Regions from separate parts of the Homo sapiens genome. Here region 2 is linked to region 1. The links come from fine-mapping of genetic effects on gene expression. A gene starts in region 1. The other region holds a variant in brackets. All regions are shown on one strand. Distances are from middle to middle.

Region 1 (2,925 bases):
AGCGCTCCCCGCGGGCCCCATCGGCGCCCACGCCCGCCTGTTTATGAGGAAGGAGGCAGCTCCCCGCCCCGCGTTGCCCTCCCTCTCCGGAGCCCTCCTGCTCGGCTTCCTCCTCCCCCACTCAGGCCCCAAAAACGAGCTCAGGGGCCTGCCAGAGGCTCCGCCGAGGCGACGGGCCGCGCAGAACTCTGGCGGCGGCCGTGGGGCTGCTGGAGCCGGGCCTGGCTGGGATGACCGTGACCGTGGCCCCCACGCACGCCTAGACCGGACCCCGGGCGGACGCCGCCTCCTGGGACCAGATTCCACCGCAGCGGCGGCGCGGCCGGGAGTCGCGCGGGAAGAAACTGACTCAGCGGACTCCGCTGAGTCCACAGGCCCGGAGCCCCGCAGCGGAGGCGCGCAGTGCGCAGCCCGGCCGGCCACCCTCCGCGACCCGCCAGCCGGGGATCCTGCGGCCCCACGGAAGGTCTGGGAACTGGGAGCAGGAAAAATGAAAGCCGCCTATCTCCAGATCTAAGAATAGAAATCAGGGCGCTGGGAAAAGAGGACACCGCCCAGATGGCCCCTTTTAGGAATACATTGTCTTTAGAGTTCCACCTATAGGGAGATGAGCAATTTTCCCCCAAAGGATGGAAAGAGGGGTTAGCCATCAAAACTGCCCCCGCTACTCTTTTTTATGATTTTTTGTGACTGTTAGTGGGAGAGGAAATAAACATTGTTTCCCTGTGAGTTATCTGAAGCTCTGGTCACCAAAAGGCCACTAAATTAACTTTTGGAAATTTGAGTTGCACTAGGCAGGATCCTGATACTTGGGACACCCGAAAAGTAATCAGCTCTCAGAGCTATTAGAGCTGAGACAAAGGACAGGGTACATGAAATGAAAGGTGAAAAGTTGAGAGAAGCAAACCTAAATACTCTTCTCTTGGTATTCAGAAATACTTATGAGTATGGGTGTCTATAACCCCAAAGTTTTTTGGTTTTGTCTTTTGATTGTTTGTTTGTTTGTTCTGTTAAGTACCTAAGTAATGTGTTTTTAGGAAAAGAAACCTAGCAAGAACATTGTAGACAAGGCTAGGCAAAGATGATCTATCCTTCAGGTGATGTGTCTGTCCTCAAGATCACTTACAAAGAAGAGGATTGGACTGGAAGTTACTACTTCACAATTTTAGTTTTGTTTTCACATCTGTTACTTCAATCCTGATGACAATTCTGAAATGGATACAACTACTACTATGTATCCTTCTTTCACTAGTGAGGAAATTGAGATTTGGAATTGAGAAGTGAAGAGCTTTGCTGGAGTCACACAGGTGGGAAGTTGAGAGCCAGGACTTCAACCCAGCAAATCTCCTAACTCCAGGTAGAAGGTTCTTCATGCTCTACCACTTTAATAAGAATGCTCTAGACTTTGTTAATACATTAGATTAGTAAGATAGCAAACTCCTACTCAACCTGGATATTGGGTCTATGTCTTGTTGTTATAGAGTCTTTAACTTTTACAGAGACATGCTAAAATATTTATAGTTGAAATGGTTAGGATTTCTTTCAAAGTCATCCAGTGGTGGAGGAAAAGATGAAATGTGTGGAGATAGAGATAACGATAACAACTTTTGAATTGATAATTGTTGAAGATAATATGAGATGGGTTCATGTGGTCTGTTCTACTATTGTATCTATATAAAATTTTCCATAATTTAACAAAAAACTCCCAATCTTACAATATTTATCAGACCTACAGTGTATTATTTTCTAAGTTGTTTCTAAACTTGTTTCCATTTCTGATGACTTAATCAATGTCTCAAACATTTCTAGGCATTCTCCATCTCATGCATTCCTTCTGTTCCTCTGCATTAGTTTCTCCCTTCCTGTTCTACTGAATTACAACCTTGCAAGAAATTAAAACCTACCTCCCTTCCAAAGAAAAATAAATCTAAATTAAAAGATGTCTCCTAATTTCCACAATTCATTCATCCATCTATTGCCTATTTATTATCTACTCTATATTGGCCAGACTGTGAGTAGACAGTGTGAAAATATGAATTATTTGTTGGGAGCATTCTCCCATGAACTACTGCAGTGTTAAGGTAAAGTATTCTCTTAGTTTTCAAAAATGTTTAATTGATTGACTGAAATTCCAAGATTTATCAACTCTTCAAGTAGTTAACAAGACTGAAAATGAAGATTAAGGCATGAATTTATGATGGAAGCAGGGTTCAGTGGAGAATAAAATGGTGCTAGAACATTTGGCTAATTTCCTGAAAAGAAAAAAAATAAAACTGACATTACTAATTACAGCAAACATCAAATAGATTAAAAAGTTAAATAAAAATAACTTCAAAAATAAAATATAAATTAATAGTTATATAATCTTGAAAAAGGAAACATAAAAACAAAAAAGAAATCACATAAGGGTAGTATATGTGACTCCATCAAATTTAAATTTTCTGCAGTCAAAGAAAAAATACCCAATAATGAAACTAGAAGTCAAACGGCAAACAGGAAGAAAAAATTTGAAATACATATGATGAAATACAATTTGCCTTCAACTTTCAAAAGTTCTTACAAATCACTGGGAGGAGGGTATTACGCCACAGATAGACCAGGAAAAAAAATAATAAACTAAGGTTTTGAAAAGGAAATTCATTTTGAATGACCAATAAGTATTTTTTAATGTCATCATTATAAAAAAAATGTGTTCCTAAACATGAGTGATGCACAAGCATAAAGTGCAATTGTGTGTGTGTGTGTGTATGATGACAATGAAAGGGAAACCTTGAAAATAAATTAACAAATATTTACAAAACCTTTATGAATAAATTATTGAACTCTGTTAAAAGGCATTAAAAAGGCATGAATAAATATTAATATCACATTAATTAATGGGAAAACTAAATTCAAAAATATGTCAATTCTCTACAAAGTAATAAA
Region 2 (2,925 bases), 730 kb before region 1:
CATATCTTTAACATTCTATTATTTCCACAATCAGAGGGTTATATCGAGAGAAACTCAAGGGATGAAACTATTTCATTGATATCTCTTAAAGAGAAATATTAAGGTCTAATAAGTATCAATAAGTTTTAAGTATCAATGAGTACAAACAAATACTATATGGTTTGGAAGAATGATTGATTTGGTTTCACAAAGCTGATCTAATTGACTAGTTTTAATATGTGCCACAGTTCATTTTACAAAGATACTAAAAGTTTGCAGAAATTGAGAAAATGTACAATTCCACTAACATGTACTCTGTTGCCAAATTATAAGTTCTGCGAGGACAAGAGTATTTGTTTTGTTCAATGCTCTATTCTATTGCCTCCAAGAGTGTTCAACACATATTTTTGAGTCTTGAGGAAATTTTGCTTGTGATGATGAGACACCATTTCAATGTAATTTCCAAAAATAGCTAATAGTTATTCAATGCCTACTCTATACCGGGTCCTGGTCTGTGCAAGTATATACATACATACATACATACACACACACACACACACACACACACACATATATACACACACACATATACACATACATACACACATACAGGCACACACACACATACACACACTTTTATTCAATTCTTTTTTGACAACTGCCCTATGAGATAGGTCTTATTATATCCATTTGATTAACAGTAAAAGTTAGACTTAAGGAATCCAAGTAATTTAACTAAGATAACTAAGGTCACTCAGCTTGTATGGTAGCAGGAGCATGTCAAAGTTCATGTTAATTATCTCCAAGATATTTTCTTAGAATGAAAACTTGGAAAACTCAATTTTTAAATGGACATTTGGTTTTCCTATGAACCAAAAATATTGATTTACTATTTCAGTGATAAATATCTAGATACCTATGATGTATCATGACTGTACATGGAGTGAACGTTTTGCTTCACCATAGGTTCTACCAATAACCTCTTCATATATCATGTTCCCTCCAGTTCTTGGAAAACATTTGGGTTTGCAACCCTTGCTGGATTAATGAGGTTAAGAATAATAGCTGAGAGAGCATATTGGTATAGTTAGTTGGAACAGAATATTAATATCTCCATATAAAGAACTGATCAGTGGCCACACACCTTAATCCTTGATATTAGCCAGTCTTAATTTAATGTCGATTGAGATCTTCCAGTCCCTTGAGGTATAGATTGGTCAAAAATTGAAACAGTTCCCAAGATTTCTACAAATTCCTGCAATAGGGGAGTTTTTTTCCTTCTGTCCTCTTGGTCTGTTATTTATTTATTTATTTATTTATTTATTTATTTTTGTCATACCAGGGAGCTCCAGACTAGAAATTCAGCACTTTCTCTATTTTATCAGAAAACCAAATAGCATGAAGTCTTACCTAGTAAAGTTAGTTTACTGAACAACTGAAGGAGCTGGAACTGGTTATATCAAAAAAAAAAAAAAGGTAGGGTAAATCAACCTTGAAAAGTATCATCCACTGCATAATTCTGTTTTTAAAAGTCCTGTTGGCCGTAAATTTACTGGGAATTTCCCAGTAACCTTCACCTCTCCCAGTGCTCTGCCATCTTGTTGG[C/A]AGCCACTCCTACTACCAATCTCTTACTTCTCTCTTCTTTTCTCTTCTTTCTCTTGGAAATAAATAATTCTTATTTTCTCATATTAAGCTGTTTGATTGTTTGATTTTTACTTGGATTCTGACAATATCTATTCTGTTTTTAGTTTTTCCATTTCTTCATTTCTTACTCTTCAATCAATTCTCATCTGAGTCCCACTGCTTCAGCTCATCTTATTTGACTTCTTGATAGCATTTGGCTTTCCTTCCTCAAATACTCATTTTTTTCTAGTCATCTGACTTTCCAGGAACTTCTAGGACATTCTTAACCCCTCCCTTTCTTCAACTTTCTCATAAACTCATCATAAATTCTTGAATTTATCCATTCTTTCCATCACTACTGCCTCTTGTCCAAACTACCCACATCTCTCACCTGAACCCCTACATCTTATTTGATCACTACTTCCACCACTGTTCCACTCTATTCTTTCCTCTATTGGTTACCTAGAATAACCTTTTAAAAATGCAGCTGGGCCCAACTCACTTGTCTCCATAAAAGCAGATAAACTGAAACCTTTAAAATTTCCCTTTCCTGGGACAAAAGCCATAGCATTATTGTAGCCAACTTGATTCCATTCTCTAGGCTCTCTCTGATGCTCCAGCTCACCTAGTGTGCCATCTCACTCACACTCTGCTCTCCAGGCAGAACATTCTCTTTTTAGGACCACAAATGTATCTTGTTCTCTTCAGTCTCTGGTTCATCACATTGTCTTGTCTTCTGGAATTGTGATTCATACCCCTCATAACCTCAATACCCCCTCCCCTATCACCTTCACCTCTACCCAATACCAGTTGAAATCATTTTCTCCAGCAAGTCTTTCCATTTTCTGTGGACTAGGCAGGTACCCTTTCTATATTTTATTATGCTACCATGAAACTTCTGTCATATTACATATCGTAAATGCAGTTAAACACTTTTGTGATTATGTGGTTGAAGTTGTTCTCCCTGGCCGACTATAAGTTTGATGTGAGGAAATACGTCTGTTTTATTTAGCAGACATGTTGTATCCCTGTGTTATATATGTATACAGCTGTATGCGCTGTCTTCTCAAGTCCAGCACAGTGCCAAGCAAATAATCACGCTAAATATGCCTTGTTTGAATGAACTTGTCAAATTGTCAAGAATTTTGGTATCTGCTCTTAAGATAATATGTATTCACTTCTTTTCAGCTACATTCAGAATTATGTTAGCAAGTACATATAACCCATGACAGTGACAGCATTTACTAAACAAATAATGAGGCTTTTCTTGTGTGAGAGTGAAGTACACACACCTTCAGCCTCCACAGATTACCCCTGCACCTA

Evidence for each region. PIP is the estimated chance that this variant, and not a neighbour inherited with it, causes the effect.
Region 2: its variant is fine-mapped to the expression of LRRK2-DT in spleen (GTEx, PIP 0.97).

Annotation. Positions count from the first base shown.
Region 1 is chr12:40,222,091-40,225,015 of GRCh38, reverse strand. LRRK2-DT (LRRK2 divergent transcript) reads left to right here and starts at 1,194. Exons shown (of 9, transcript NR_186757.1): 1 at 1,194-1,357. It overlaps LINC01779 (long intergenic non-protein coding RNA 1779), which reads left to right and starts at 113. Exons shown (of 1, transcript NR_186584.1): 1 at 113-1,940. It overlaps LRRK2 (leucine rich repeat kinase 2), which reads right to left and starts at 19. Exons shown (of 51, transcript NM_198578.4): 1 at 1-19. RefSeq lists a silencer at 1-253.
Region 2 is chr12:40,955,977-40,958,901 of GRCh38, reverse strand. The region is part of intron 14 of CNTN1 (contactin 1); the gene reads right to left. Among named protein-coding and RNA genes, the nearest start is that of PDZRN4, 230 kb to the left of the region's middle. The variant C/A (reference allele first, on the strand shown) is at 1,585.